Regions from separate parts of the Homo sapiens genome. Here region 2 is linked to region 1. A link means that fine-mapping ties the variant in region 1 to the expression of a gene that starts in the linked region. Tissue or cell type: subcutaneous fat. Region 1 holds a variant in brackets; the other region holds the start of a gene. All regions are shown on one strand. Distances are from middle to middle.

Evidence for each region. PIP is the estimated chance that this variant, and not a neighbour inherited with it, causes the effect.
Region 2: CAPN12 starts here. The variant in region 1 is fine-mapped to the expression of CAPN12 in subcutaneous fat (GTEx, PIP 0.94).

What each region holds. Positions count from the first base shown.
Region 1 is chr19:38,621,324-38,629,424 of GRCh38, forward strand. EIF3K (eukaryotic translation initiation factor 3 subunit K) reads left to right here. Exons shown (of 8, transcript NM_013234.4): 3 at 2,754-2,874; 4 at 4,705-4,779. Among named protein-coding and RNA genes, the nearest start is that of EIF3K, 6.2 kb to the left of the region's middle. RefSeq lists enhancers at 897-1,757, 2,404-2,905. The variant A/G (reference allele first, on the strand shown) is at 4,998.
Region 2 is chr19:38,741,067-38,749,154 of GRCh38, forward strand. CAPN12 (calpain 12) reads right to left here and starts at 3,408. Exons shown (of 21, transcript NM_144691.4): 1 at 2,863-3,408; 2 at 1,967-2,036; 3 at 1,344-1,462; 4 at 711-844. The coding sequence starts at 3,099.

The DNA of each region.
Region 1 (8,101 bases):
AATTTTTTGAGCCTGGGAGGCAGAGGTTGCAGTGAGCCAAGATCATACCACTGCACTCCAGCTTGGGCGACAGAGTGAGACCCTGTCTCAAAAATAAATAAAGGTTAATTACAGAACACATGTACAGGCTAATACATTAAGCAAACATGTAGTTTAACAAATCATTATAAATGAAAGCCTACATAATCACCATTTATGTTGCAAAGTTATTGCTAGCACCACAGGCTCTTTGCCCCCTATGCTCTATGCCAACCAATTCCCCTGCTCCCCCATGCTCTCATGGCCTGGCTTTATGTGATGGTTTACTATGCATGCATACATCTGGCTCAGCTCAGCTCAGGTTTCCCTGCTTTGAACTTGATACAGATGGAGTGCATACAGCACAAACTCTTCTGCATTTGCCATTTGCTACTCAGCACTGGGTTTGTGAGATCCATCCAGTGTTTTTTGTTTTTTTGTTTTGTTTTTGATATGGCTGCAGTTTGTTGTCATGGATGTATAGCTCTCCACTGTGTCACTTGTGTGGCTGTCCTAATGATCTCTTCTGGCTCTTGATGGACATTGTGGGTTCTTCGTGCCCTTTTTTTTTTTTTTTTTTTTTTGGAGACAGGATCTTCTGTTGCCCAGGCTGGAGTACAGTGGCACAGTCATGGCTCACTGCATCCTTAGCCTTCTGGACTCAAGTGATTCTCCCGCCTCAGCCTCCTGAATAGCTGGGACTACAGGCATGCACCACCATGCCCAGCTAATTTTACTTGGGTGCTTTCTTTCTTTCCTTTTTTTTTTTTTTTTGAGACAGGGTCTCACCTTCTTGCCCAGGCTAGAGTGCCTTGGCGTGATCTCATGATCTCAACTCAGTGCATCCTTTGCCTCCCAGGTTCATGTAATCCTCCTGCCTCGGCCTCCTAAGTAGCTGTACGTATCGGGGGGCCTGCCCCGATAATCACGTAGGTTCTTTTCTATATTCCTAAGCATTGGCTGGCTTGAGAAATAGAAGGACAGAGTACAAAAGAGAGAAATTTTAAAGCTGGGCGTCCGGGGGAGACATCACACATTGGTAGGATCCGTGATGCCTCACAAGCCACAAAAACCAGCAAGTTTTTATTAGGGATTTTCAAAAGGGGAGGGAGTGTGCGAATAGGTGTGGGCGACAGACATCAAGTACTTAACAGGGTAATAGAATATCACAAGGCAAGTGGAGGCAGGGCGAGATCACAGGACCACAGGATCAAAGCGAAATTAAAATTGCTAATGAAGTTTTGGGCACCACTGTCATTGATAACATCTTATCAGGAGACAGGGTTTTGAGATCAACCGGTCTGACCAAAATTTATTAGGCGGGAATTTCCTCTTCCTAATAAGCCTGGGAACGCTATGGGAGACGAGTTTATTTCACCTCTGCAATCTCGACTATAAGAGACAGGTACGCCCCGGGGGGCCCGTTCAGAGACCTACCCCTAGGTGCGCATTCTCTTTCTCAGGGACGTTCCATGCTGAGAAAAAGAATTCAGCGATATTTCTCCCATTTGCTTTTGAAAGAAGAGAAATATGGCTCTGTTCTGCCCGGCTCACCGGCAGTCAGAGTTTAAGGTTCTCTCTCTCATTCCCGGAACAATTGCTGTTATCCTGTTCTTTTTCCAGGGTGCCCACATTTCATATTGCTCAAACACACATGTTGTGCAATTTTTGTAGTTAACGCAATTATTACAGGGTCCTGGAACGATATACATCCTCCTCAACTGACAGGATTAAGAGATTAAAGTAAAGACAGGCATAGGAAATCACAAGGGTATTGATTGGGGAAGTGATAAGTGTCCATGAAATCTTTACAATTTATGTTTAGAGATTGCAGTAAAGACAGGCATAAGAAATTACAAAAGTATTAATTTGGGGAACTAATAAATGTCCATAAAATCTTCACAATCCACGTTCTTCTGTCATGGCTTCAGCCGGTCCCTCCGTTTGGGGTCCCTGACTTCCCGCAACAGGTACGCACCACCATACCCAGCTAATTTTTGTATTTTTAGTAGAGACAGGGTTTTGCCATGTTAGCCAGGCTGGTCTCGAACTCCTGACCTCAGGTGATCCACCCGCCTTGGCCTCCCAAAGTGCTGGGATTACAGGCGTGAGCCACTGCACCCAGCCTAATTTTTGTATTTTTAGTAGAGACGGGGCTTTGTCATGTTGGCCAGGCTGGTCTCGAACTCCTGATCTCAGGTGATCCGCCCATCTCGGCCTCCCAAAGTGCTGGGATTACAGGCTTGAGCCACCCACCTACCCACCCCCACCGCCACCTTCTGTTGTCCTCTTTTGCAAGGGAGGAAACCGTCAGCCCCTCAGTTTCCTTTCTCTGCTCCTCAGCCTTTCAGTGCCTCTTAATCTCTCTCTTCTCTGCTCCTCGTGTCATAAATAAGCAGTCCAAGGTCACTCAGCAGGGAAGTTTAAACCGAGGCAGTCTGGCTCTGGTTCCTTAGCCACTACTCCAGACCACTGCTGCTGTTCTCATTTGTTTATAAATCACTTAGCAGTGTCTGCCCCATTGGGTAGTTGTGAGCATTAACTGTCCCTGTTCACAGAGGAGAAAGGTAGGCTCAGGGAGGTGAAGGTTACACAGCTGGGAAGCACTGGGACTGGGATTGGAACCCAGGCATGTCCAATTCCCAAACTCCAGAATAAAGCAGCTGCCTGGCACCTGGTGAGGATTGGGGACTTGGAGGTGCCACTGTGGCCACGTCTCTTGTTCTTTTTCTTAGGTACCAGTTCAACCCAGCCTTCTTTCAGACCACGGTCACCGCCCAGATCCTGCTGAAGGCCCTCACCAACTTGCCGCACACAGACTTCACCCTGTGCAAGTGCATGATCGACCAGGCACATGTATCCTTCCAGCACTGGGGCCGGGGGGTGTGTGGGAAGGGGTCAGAGTCAAGGTGCATGAATTCCCAGGGAGATGGTCTGTGGGTGTATCCACAAACAACAAGTGCCTGCTCTGGTCCAGCGTGGCAAGGTGCTGGACAGTGCTGGGACACTGGTGACTGAGACAGTCCTGGGCCCTGTCTTCACAAAGTTGTCGCAGTCCAGTGAAGAGTCAGTGATAGACTGGAGTGGTCAGGGTTGGGTTACAAGAGTCACAGCAGCCGGGCACAATGACTCAGGCCTCTAATCCCGGCACTTTGAGAGGTCAAGGTGGGTGGATCACCTGAGGTCAGGAGTTCGAGACCAGCCTGGCCAACATGGCGAAACCCCATCTCTATTAAAATACAAAAAATTAGCCAGGCACAGTGGCACACACCTATAGTCCCAGTTACTCAGGAGGCTGAGGCAGGAGGATCACTTGAAGCTGGGAGATGGAGGTTGCAGTGAGCCGAGATTGCGCCACTGCACTCCACCCTGGGTGACACAGTGAGACTCTGTCTCAAAAAAAAAAAGAAGAGCCAGAGTAGGCACCTGACCATTTGGGTGGGGGAATATGTGGACATGAACACAGCCATCTGTATTTACATTCTATAGAACAATGTCTGGAAAGGTGGAAAGGTACCCAAGAATTGGAAATGACTGTTACCTCCCAGGAAGGATGGCTGTGAGACAGGGAAGGGAAGACCTATTTTGCCACTGTTCACTCTTCTGTATTTTTAACTAGAAACTATAAACCAGGGCCTCCTGGAGGAGGGAACATCTAAAACATAACGAGTTAGGTGGAGGGGTAGGCAAAGGTGATCCAGGCAGAGAGGACACTCATGGGCTAAAGGAAGCAGAGCTCGGTGCTGTCTTTCAGGAATGGTAGAGGAAGCCTGACATAGGAATGATTTAAGGTGGGTTTTTTTTTGTTGTTGTTTTATTTTATTTATTTTATTTTTTTTTTGAGACGGAGCCTTGCTCTGTCACCCAGTCTGGAGTGCAGTGGCGTGATCTCGGCTTCCTGCAACTTCCACCTCCCAGGTTCAAGCTATTCTGTCTCAGCCTCCTGAGCAGCTGGGACCACAGGTGCATGCATGCTACCACGCCCAGCTAATTTTTGTATTTTTAGTAGAGACGGGGTTTTGCTATGTTGGCCAGGCTGCTCTCGAACTCCTGACCTCAGGTGATCCACCCGCCTCAGCCTCCCAAAGTGATAGGATTACAGATGTGAGCCACCGTGCCCAGCCTATAGGTTTTATTTTATTAGTAATAATAGTAGGGTTTTTTTGTTAATATTTTCTTTTTTTTTGAGATGGAGTCTTGCTCTGTCATCCAGGCTGGCGTGCAAAGGCGTGATCTTGGCTCACTACAACCTCCTCCTCCCGGGTTCAAGTGATTCTCCTGCCTCAGCCTCCCAAGTAGCTGGGACTATAGGCACGTGCCACCACACCCAGCTGCTTTTCGTATGTTTAGTAGAGATGGGGTTTCGCTATGTTGGCCAGGCTGGTGTCGAACTCCTGACCTCAGGTGATCCACCCGCCTTGGCCTCCCAAAGTGCCAGGATTACAGGCGTGAGCCACCAGGACTGGCATGTCATTTCTCATCTTTTGCCATTACAAACAGTCCTGCAGCCAACATCCTTTCTCCTGCATACACCTGCAGGAGAAATAAGCTGGCTTCCTTTTCCAGCTGTTTTTCTGAGCTGAAGCTTTGGAAGAAAGCAGCCAGAAGAAGGTAGGTGGGGAGGGGTGATCTGGGGTCCAACCTTACGCTCCGAGGCCAGTTTTCCTTAATGCTTCCTCCTCCCAGCAAGAAGAACGGCCAATCCGACAGATTTTGTACCTCGGGGACCTGCTGGAGACCTGCCATTTCCAGGCCTTCTGGGTAACTTCCCTGGGGTCCAGGGGCAGGGGAGATGGCAGGGCCATGTGGAGCTGAGTGCTAAAAGTAACAACGGTGCACACTGACTGGCTTCCTGCTTTGGCGGTGGGCCCAGTGCTCTGCATGTGTGTGTTTGTGGAATTATCATCCTCTCGCGGAGCAGGTACTCACAGGTCATCCCCGTGCCCACAGGCTGAGGCCGACCCTTTCCCCTTTCTCCC[A/G]TCTTTCCACTGAGCCCTCTAGTACACACCGTTGATCAGAAGTCCTCCAGTGGCTGGGTGTAGTGACTCACCCCCGTGATTCCAGTACTTGTGGAGGCCAAGGTGGGAGGATTGCTTGAGGCCAGGAGTTCCAGACCAGCCTGAGCAACATAGTGAAACTTCATCTCTACAAAATTGAAAATTAATTGGGTGTGGTGGCATGTGCCTGTACTCCCAGCTACCCAGGAGGCTAAGGTGGGAGGATCGCTTGAGGCTGCGAGTGAGCCGTGATCACACCACTGCACTCCAGCCTGGGCAACAGAGCAAGACCCTGTCTCAAGAAAGAGAAATTCTCCGTCTCTTCTACCTGTCTGACATGCTCTGCCCTTCTTGCTCTAACTGGAACCTGGCCCCCCACTTCTGCAGCCCCCTAAGTGGGAGGCTAGATCACCTCCTGGCTCCTATCTCTTCTGATACCCTCAGTCTTTTTTGTTGTTTTTTGTTTGTTTGTTTTTTGGTTTTTTTGAGATGGAGTCTCACGCCATTGCCTAGGCTGTAGTACAGTGGCACGATCTTGGCTCACTGCAACCTCTGCTTCCCGGGTTCAAGTGATTCTCCTGTCTCCCGAGTAGCTAGTACTACAGGCACACGCCATCATGCCCAACTAAATTTTATATGTATTTTTTATTTTATTTTGTTTTATTTTTGAGACAGAGTCTCAGTCTTGCCCAGGCTGGAGTGCAGTGGCGCGATCTTGGCTTACTGCAACTGCCGCCTCCCGAGTTCAACTGATTCTCGTGCCTCAGCCTCCTAAGTGGCTGGGGTTACAGGCATGTGCCATCACGCTGGCTAATTTTTGTATTTTTAGTAGAGACGGGGTTTTGCCATGTTGTCCAGGCTGGTCTTGAATTCCTGACCTCAGGTGATCTGCCTGCCTCAGCCTCCCAAAGTGCTGGGATTATAGGCGTGAACCACCACGCCGGGCCAGAAACCCCCAGTTTTGAAGTGTGTGTGTCGTCACTTCCTGCCCGGTATCAGTCCCTCTGGTGACTGCTCTTTGTTTCTTGAAGAATTCAGCCCCTGGCTGGCCACGGTGGCTCAACGCCTGTAATCCCAGCACTTTGGGAGGCCGAGGCAGGTGGATCACCTGAGGTCGGGAGTTCGAGACCAGCCTGACCAACGTGGAGAAATACTGTCTTAACTAAAAATACAAAATTAGCTGGGTGAGGTGGCACATGCCTGTAATCCTAGCTGCTCGGGAGGCTGAGGCAGGAGAATCACTTGAACCCAGTGGGTTCAACCTCACCCAGAGGTTATGGTGAGCTGAGATCATGCCGTTGCACTCCAGCCTGGGTGACAGAGTGAGACTCCGTCTCAAAAAAAAAAAAAATTCAGCTCCTTCTCACTGGCGCTCTCTACCACTCCTGCCCTAATTCTTAGACGCTTAGAAAGTAACACAGAGGATCCTTTGACCACCCAGACCTCTGGGTCCCTTGCTCTCTTGGCCAGCTATCTTGTGCTACACCTGACCTCAGCCCTTCTCTTCCAATCATACCCCAGGCCAGTTCTCTGCACATTAGACCTCTGAGGCATTTATTTTCTTTCCTTTTTTTTTTTTTGTTTGAGACCATGTCTCGCTGTGTCACCCAGGCTGGAATGCAGTGGCACAATCTCAACTCACTGCAACCTCTGCCTGCTGGGTTCAAGCAATTTTCCTGTCTCAGCCTCCCAGGTAGCTGGGACTACAGGCATGCACCACCCCGCCGGCTAATTTTTGTATTTTTAGTAGAGACGGGGTTTCACCATGTTGGCCAGGCTGGTCTCGAACTACTGACCTCAAGTGATCTGCCCGCCTTGGCCTTCCAAAGTGCTGGGACTACAGGTGTCAGCCACCACGCCCGGACCTCTGAGGCATTTTTAAAAATTAATACTGATACTTGGGTCCTCCCTCACAGAGTCTGATGTAATTGCTTCAGTGTAGCCTAGGCCTTGGGATTTTAAAAGGTTACCCTGGGTGATTTGGACATCTGGCCAATGTTGGGAGCCACTGCCGTCACCAATAATGGCTCCCCTCCTCCCTCTGTGAGTTTCCAGCATCTCCATTCTCTGACCGCTTCCTCCTAGCTTCTCAGCTCACCCCCACAGGGTCTCCATCCCCACATTCTTGGGCCTGACCATTAGCTCCAACCCTCTTTCTCTGCAGGCTTCTCTGTTCCGCTTCCTTCTCTTAAATCGCATGTGCTGGCTGGGCATGGTGGCTCACACCTGTAATCCCAGCACTTTGGGAGGCCGAGGTGGATGGATCGCCTGAGGTCAGGAGTTCGAGACCAGCCTGACCAACGTGGAGAAACCCCATCTCTACTAAAAATACAAAGTTGGCCGGGCGTGGTGGCGCATGCCTGTAATCCCAGCTACTCGGGAGGCTGAGGCAGGAGAATTGCTTGAACCTGGGAGGCGGAGATTGCGGTGAGCCGAGATCATGCCATTGCACTCCAGTCTGAAAAAGAGCGAAACTCCATCTCAAAAAAAAAAAAGAGAAAAAATGTCGCATGTGACTCCCCTGTCCCCAGCTGCAGCTACGGTCTTGCTTCCTTCCCCAACTCCTGGATGTTTCCTCATGCTTTATCTGTCTCCCTTTCTTCTCACCTCAACTTATGATCTGGCTTCTTGTCTCGGGAGAAAATGGAAGCAGCCACTGTAGAAATTGCACCTGTTCCTATCCCAGACCCTGACATTTTATGTGCAGCTGACTGCACACTTTTTTTTTTAATTCTTAAACATTTTATTTTTTATTCAAGTAAGAAATTATTGATTAGCTTCAGTTAATCCCACAAAGAAAATGATCAAATGCTTAAAATAATAGAGTTTACTAGTTCTACAACTGTTCTCACTAGCAAACTAGCAAATGAGATGTGTTGGAGATCTTAGACCTATTCCATGGAACAGATAGACAGGTTTTTTTTGTTTGTTTGTTTTGTTTTGTTTTGTTTTGTTTTGTTTTGTTTTGTTTTTTGAGACAGGGTCTCACTCTGTCGCCCAGGCCGCAGTGCAGTGATGCAAACACAGCTCACTGCAGCTTTGACCTCCCAGGCTCAAGTGATCCCCGCACTTCAGCCTCCTGAGTA
Region 2 (8,088 bases), 120 kb after region 1:
CAGGGTGACCCCCAATATTTTGGGGGTGCTTTAGATTTCTCAATGGACCAGGAGAGACAATCTAAGATATACAGCTCACCCGAGGGGATAAATCCCAGATTTGGTGAATCCAGGGCCTGATATATGAGATTTCAGGATCCTTAAGAATTATGAGTGACTGGGGGTCTCCAGGAATGTTTTGTGTGAAATATTGATGGAGAGAGGGGTTTAAGATTTGAAGGTACAGCTGAGCACAGTGGCTCACACCTGTAATCCCAGTACTTTGGGAGGCCAAGGAAGGTGGATCACCTGAGATCAGGAGTTGGAGACCAGCCTGACCAACATGGTGAAACCCCATCTCTACTAAAAATATAAAAATTAGCCAGGCATGGTGGTGCGCTCCTGTAATCCCAGCTAGTCGGGAGGCTGAGACAGGAGAATCGCTGGAACCTGGGAGGCAGAGGTTGCAGTGAGCCAAGATCGCGCTACTGCACTCCAGCCTGGGCGACAGAGTGAGTGAGACTCCGTCTCAAAAAAAAAGAAAAAAAAAAAAAACATGAAGTTGCTCAGGTGATGTTGTGATATGAGGGTTCTGGCGGTTGTCACTTGGTTTGGGATTCTTGGTGGGGTGTTTGGAGGATTGCAGAGCTTGGGGGACTCTGGGTCCCCCTGTGGCTTGATGCCTGCTGTGGGGACTTAGGGCTGCAGCTGGTTGGAACTGGGGTCCTCACTTGGCGTAGGCCTTCTCCAGGAGTGGGGCCCAGAACTCATTCCGCTGTTCCGAGCGCACGAACATCAGCTTCCCCTCACGCACGGGCAGCCTGTCATCCACCACGACGTCCATCCAGCGGCCAAACTGCCAGAGCTGGTGGGAGAAGATGCAGGGCCGGACTCGGCTTCCAACCTCCAACCCTGCCTGGGCCCTGCCTCTGCTGTGCCAGTCCCAGAGTCAGGAATTACAGCCCCAAGTCAACGTTAACTATGAAATCCATATGGCTGGCCGGGTGCGGTGGCTCACATCTGTAATCCCAGCACTTTGGGAGGCCGAGGCGGATGGATCACGAGGTCAGGAATTCGAGACCAGCCTGGCTAAGATGGTGAAATACCATCTCTACTAAAAATAAGAAAAAATTAGCTGGGCATGATGGCGGGTGCCTGTAATCCCAGCTACTCAGGAGGCTGAGGCAGAGAATTGCTTGAACCTGGGGGCGGGGCGAAGGTTGCAGTGAGCCGAGATTGTGCCACTGCACTCCAGCCTGGATGACAGAGTGAGATTCCATCTCAAAAAAAAAAAAAAAGAAAAATCCATATCACCAAGTCACCATGGGGGAAACGGAGGCATGGGCAGAGGAACTGAGCTGTACCTGGAAGTGGAAGACGCCTGCGTAGCCATGCTGGAAATCCTGTCCAGGAGGGACCACCCGGCGCAGGAGCCGGGGATACAGAGTAAGGGAGGCGGCAGCTGCAAGGAACCAGCAGTTACCTGGGAGGAGAGGCCAGGATTAGGTGAGGATGGAAGGAGGGAGGCCTGGTGCGGTGGCTCATGCCTCTAATCCCAGCACTTTGGGAGGCCAAGGCAGAAAGATCACGTGAGCCTAGGAGTTCAAGACCAGCCTGGCCAACATGGCAAGACTCCACTACAAGAAAATTTAAAAATTAGCTGGGCATGGTGGCATGCACCTGTAGTCCCAGCTACTTGGGAGGCTGAGGCAGGAAGATTGCTTGAGTCCAGGAGGTTAAGGCTGCAGTGAGCTATGATGGTGCCACTGTATTCCAGAATGGGTGACAGAGTGAGACCCCATCTCAAAAAAAAAAAAAAAAAAAAAAGGAAGGAAGGAAGGAGGGAGGAGGGAGAGAGAGGCCTAGGGAGAGAAGAGACTGAGGAGGGATCCAGGGGCCGGGAGTGGGTGGACAAAGGGATGGAGCTGTCAGGATCTCAGCTGAAACTAGCTGGATCTGAGGACTCCAGGTGGGTTCAGGGTCTCACCCAGGCTCCCCTGACACACGTCTGTGCGGCTCATGTCTTCACAGATGAACTTCGGCTCAGCACAGAACTCCTGTGGGTGGTGGGGGATTCCAGGCCTCAGCCTGAGAAAGCGAGGAAAGGTCTCATCCAGAGGAGTGAGGGCCTCCAAGCCCATGAAAGGCCTGGAAGCCTGTGGGCAGGAGCATGGCTTCCCTGGGTCTCCAGAAGTTGTGCTGAGCCAGTCCCATGGTAGCCCCCTCCTCCCTCAGACCCGGGAGTCCAGGCCCAGCCCCTCCTCCCTCAGACCCAGGAGTCCATGTCCCGAGCCCCTCCTCCCTCAGACCCAGGAGTCCAGGCCCAGCCCCTCCTCCCTCAGACCCAGGAGTCCAGGTCCCGAGCCCCTCCTCCCTCAGACCCAGGAGTCCAGGCCCAGCCCCTCCTCCCTCAGACCCAGGAGTCCAGGTCCCGAGCCCCTCCTCCCTCAGACCCAAGAATCCAGGTCCCCAGCCCCTCCTCCCTCAGACCCAGGAGTCCAGGTCCAGCCCCTCCTCCCTCAGACCCCGGAGTCCAGGTCCCCAGCCCCCTCTTCCCTCAGACCCAGGTGTCCAGGCCTTGGCCTCTCCTCCCTCAGATCCAGAAGTCCAGGTCCAAGCCCCCTCCTCCCTCAGACCCAGGAGTCCAGGTCCCCAGCCCCTCCTCCCTCAGACCCAAGAGTCCAGGCCCAGCCCTTCCTCCCTCAGACCCAGGAGTCCAGGCCCAGCCCCTCCTCCCTCAGACCTAAGAGTCCAGGTCTCGAGCCCCTCCTCCCTCAGACCAGGGAGTCCAGGCCCCCAGCCTTCCTTCCTCAGACCCAGGAGTCCATGCCTCCAGCCCCTCCTCCCTCAGACCCCAGAGCCCAGACCCCAGCCACACTTTACATGGGGCCTCATCCATTTCACGCCTTTGGCCTTCTCCGAGTCCGGCCCCAGCTGGTCATAGCCAAGGGCATCAGGGCCAGCAGGGAAGTAAGGGTCGCGGAACAGGATCCCCGAATCCAGGCAGGCTGCCCGAATTGCCTCATAGCTCTGGCCCCGAAAAAGCTGCAGGCGCCCGGCTCCGACCCCAGCCTCCTCATCCACGAGCTGGATGGTGACCCTCCCACTGCTGGATGCCATCTGGACACTGGCCTCACAAGCCGGCACCAGGCCCTTTAACCTCCTGAGTCACGGGGGCGGGGCCTCTCTTCCATTGGAGCCCCAGTGGGGTCTTTAGGCAATGAGGAGCCTTCCCTCGTTAATATTAATTGATGGTTTGGGGTGCTGGGGAGCAGGGACGCCTCTTCAGTAGCTTTCTTCCCAGGGCGTGGGGCCTTCAGTTGTGGCCAAGGTAGCAGCTTAATGGGCTTGGCCAGCAGCAGGAGAGAAGGCGGGCAGAGCTGAGGGAGGACCGGCTGCCGCTGTCAGAGCACCAAGAAGGAGGTCAGTGTGGGGGTGAGCTTCTGCCTACTTATGCCTGTGGGGCTGGGGAAGGAGGCGGGTTTACCTCGGTGTCTCTATCTCTCAGACTGCCTCTCTCCCCCTCCCTCTGACAGTTTCTCTCTCCCCGCCTTCATGTTTCTTCTCCATCAGTTTCTGGAGTGCAGTGGCACGATCTCAGCTCACTGCAACCTCCGCCTTCTAGGTTCAAGTGATTCTCCTGCCTCAGCCTCCCAAGTAGCTGGGATTACAGGCTCGTGTCACCATGCCCAGCTAATTTTTGTATTTTTTGTTAGAGAAGGGATTTTACCATGTTGACCAGGCTGGTCTTGAACTCCTGGCCTCAAGCAATCCGCCCACCTTGGCCTCCCAAAGTGCTGGGATTACAGACGTGAGCCACTGTGCCTGGTCAGGTTTTGTTAATTAAAAAAAATTTTTTTTAAAGTAGAGACAGAGGGGTGGCGGGGGGCGGTCCCATATGTTCCCCAGGCTGGTCTTGAACTGCTGGCCTCAAGTGATCCTCCTGCTTCAGCAGCCTCCCAGAGAGCTGGGATTACAGATGTGAGCTACTGTGCCTGGCCCTTTCTTGTTTTTTGTTTCTGGCAATATTTGTGTCTCTGTATTTCCCCAACTCCACCCCTCTCCCCACCCCACCCTCTTTTTTTTTTTTTTTTTTTTTTTGTAGAGATGGGGCGGGGATCTCACTTTGTTGCCCAGACTGGTCTCGAACTCCTGGGCTCAAGTGATCCTCCCCGCTTGGCCTCCCAAAGTGTTGGGATTACAGGCGTGAATCACTATGCCTGTCCCCTCTCTCTTTGTGTCTCTTTCAGCGTGTGTCTGTTCCTCTCTGTACCTGTCAGACCCAGGAGTCCAGGCCCCCAGCCCCTCCTCCTTCAGACCCTGTCAGTGTACCTTGTGTCTGCCTCCCTGTCTCTTCCTCTCCATCTTTCTGTCTGTCCCTGTAACCCATATGTGGCTCCTCCATCATCCACCGAGGGACCCTGAGCTCCCCTCCGCTCACGCCCCCTAAGCCCTCAGGATGCGCCTCCTCCCCTCCCGGACAAGGTAGACTCAGCCTGCTTGCCCAGGGAGGCTGACCCTGGAGGGATGGCTCTGTACCTCTCCTGTGCTGGGAGCCATCTGGTGACCATGATGCCCTGCCCTGGCCCACGCCACTCAGAGTCTGGATGGAGCAGTATTTCCCCCAAAGGACTCTGGAGCCATTGGAGGAAATGGGAGAAACAGGTACGGAGATGCCAGAGCCTCAGCAGTGCTGGTCCCAGCAGACCTTCCACCCTCGTTGAGGGTGTCTGCTGCCCTCCCAGAGCCTTGTCACCTCCACGCCACTCAGATGTCCCTCAAGCCTTTTGGCCTTCTTCCCTCCAAGTGGACCCACAAATATTGTCCAAGCCACCCACGTACACGGCTACCAAAAGTGGGTTACAAAACAGGCTTTCTGGCTGGGCGTGGTGGCTCATGCCTGTAATCCCAGCACTTTGGGAGGCCGAGGCAGGCAGATCACCTGAGGTCAGGAGTTCGAGACCAGCCAGGCCAATGTAGTGAAACTCCGTCTCTACTAAAATACAAAAATTAGCCGGACATAGTTGCGGGCACCTGTAATCCCAGCTACTCAGAAGGCTGAGGCAGGAGAACCGCTTGAATCTGGGAGGCGGAGGTTGCAGTGAGCCGAGATTGTGCCACTGCACTCCAGCCTGGGCAACAGGGCAAGACTGCATCTCAAAAAACCCCCCAAAACAGGGCCGGGCATGGTGGCTCATGCCCGTAATCCCAGCACTTTGGGAGGCTGAGGTGGGCAGAACACTTGAGGCCAGGAGTTCAAGACCAGCCTGGCCAACATGGTGAAACACCATCTCTATTAAAAATACAAAAATTAGGCTGGACGCGGTAGTTTACTACGCCTGTAATCCCAGCACTTTGGGAGGCCGAGACGGGCGGGTCAGGAGTTCCAGACCAGCCTGGCCAACATGGTGAAACCCCATCTCTACTAAAAAATACAAAAAAATTAGCTGGGTGTGGTGGCACGCACCTGTAATCCCAGCTACTCAGGAGGCTGAGGTAGGAGAATCGCTTGAACCCGAGAGGTGGAGGTTTCAGTGAGCCAAGACTGCACCACTGCACTCCAGCCTCGGCAAGAGAGCAAAACTCCATCTCAAAAAAAAAAAAAAAAAGGCCGGGCACGGTGGCTCAAGCCTGTAATCCCAGCAGCACTTTGGGAGGCCAAAGCAGGCAGATCACGAGGTCAGGAGATCAAGACCATCCTGGCTAACACGGTGAAACCCCATCTCTACTACAAAAAATACAAAAAATTAGCCAGGCATGGTGGCGGCCACCTGTAGTCCCAGCTACTCGGGAGGCTGAGGCAGGAGAATGACGTGGACCCAGGAGGCGAAGCTTGCAGTGAGCCGCCACTGCACTCCAGCCTGGTTGACAGAGCAAGACTCTGTCTCAAAAAAAAAAAAAAAAAAAAAAATTAGCTGGGCATGGTGGTACACACCTGTAATCCCAGCTACTCAGGAGGGTGAGGCAGGAGAATCGCTTGAACCTGGGAGGCGGAGGTTGCAGTGAGCCAAGATCACGCCACTGCACTCCAGCCTGGGTGAGAGAGTGAGACTCCATCTCAAAAAAAAAAAAAAAAAAGTTTTCTTCGTGTAGGATTGCCAAGCCCACCCCAGCCCCACGGGAGTCATATGGGAGTGCTTCCAGCCTGCCGGGATTAGGAGCCACAGCACCTGGGGTCCAATCCCAGCTCTGCCACCTACACCTGTGTGTCTTTGGGCACATCACTTAACTTCTCTGTGCTTCAGTTTCCTCATCTCTGCAATGCGGATGATGATAGGGCGTACCTCGGAGGGTTGCTGTGGGAAGCGAATGAGTTCGTACGTGGGATGAGTTCAGAGAAGTGCCTGACACAGAGTCGCTGCTCACTGCACGAGGCATTGACCATGCCTTGGCGTTCAAGAGTGTCTGCTGCCCTCCCAGAGCCTTGTCACCTCCATGCCACTCAGATGTCCCTCAAGCCTTCTGGCCTCCTTCCCTCCAAGTGGACCCACAGATATTGTCCAAGCTGCCTACGTACATGGCTACCAAAAGTGGGTTACAAAACGAGCTTTCTGGCTGGGCGTGGTGGGTCACGCCTGTAATCCCAGCACTTTGGGAGGCCGAGGTGGGCGGCCTCGGCCATCCACAGTCAACCTGTCTCCTTGGATCTGGGCTGCTGTTTCTTTCACTTGTTTGTTGGTTTATTTTTTGGGACAGTCTCGCCTCGTCACCCAGGCTGGAGTGCAGTGGCGTGATCTTGGCTCACTACAACCTCCGCCTCCCAGGTTCAAGTGATTCTCCTGCCTCAGCCTCCCGAGTAGCTAGAATTACAGGCATGTGCCACCACGGCTGGCTAATTTTTGTATTTTTAGTAGAGACAGGGTTTCACCATATTGGTCAGGCTGGTCTTGAAAGCCTCACTTCAGGTGATCCACCCGCCTTGGCCTCCAAAAGTGCTGGGATTACAGACAGGAGCCACCGCGCCATGTCTTACTGTTTCTTTTTTTGTATTGTTTTGTTTTGTTTCTGAGACAGGGTCTGACTCTGTTGCCCAGGCTGGAGTGCAGTGGCACAATCTTGGCTCACTGCAGCCTTGACCTCCCGGGCTCAAGCAATCCTCCTGCCTCAGCTTCCTGAGTAGCTGGGACCACAGGCTTGTGCCACCATACCCAGCAAATTTTTAGACTTTTTGGTGGAATGGAGTCTCACTTTGTTGCCAGGGCTGGTCTTGAATCCCTGAGCTCAAGCAAACTTCCCATGTCAGCTTCCCAAAGTGCTAGGATTATAGGCCTGACCCACTGCACCTGGCCAGATGTACAACTTTCAAACCACTGAAGTAGCTTAAAATGAAAGGAAAAGAAAATGTAATCTATTTGGCAATGGTCGAAAAGCAAAGGAAAATGCAGCGAATCATAGAAAATAAAAGCAAAAAGCATCACACAATGACCTAAATAAAACCAAGCATATCAGTTATAACAACATTATGCAAATGTGTGAAACGTACTTGGGAACATCAACAAACAAAATTCAACTGTTTAGCTTTCAAAACACTTTCCAAAGATAACACCACCAAGTTTTAAAATAAAAGGATTAGAAATAGCTATCAGTCAAAAGCAGATACACAAAAATCAGGGCAAATCTGATATTAGAGAAAACCGGATTTAAAGCAGATAGCATTACTTTGGACAAAAGGAGTTATTTTCTATTGATAAAGTGTATGATCCAGAATGAAAAGTGATTGGATGGGTGCAGTGGCTCATGCCTGCAATCCCAGCACTTTGGAAGGCTGAGGCAGGTGGATCACTTGAGGTCGGCAGTTTGAGACCAGCCTGGCCGACATGGTGAAACCCCGTCTCTATTAAAAATACAAAAATTAGCTGGGCATAGTGGTGCATGCCTGTAATCTCAGCTACTCGGGAGGCTAAGGCTCAAGAATCACTTGAACCCAGGAGGTGGAGGTTGCAGTGAGCCCAGATTGTGCCAGTGCACTCCAGCCTGGGTGACAGGACAAGACTCTGTCTAAAAAAAAAAAAAAAAAGGCTGGGAGCGATGGCTCACGCCTGTAATCTCAGCAGTTTGGGAGGCCCAGGCAGACGGATTACTCAAGGTCAGGAGTTCAAAACTAGCCTG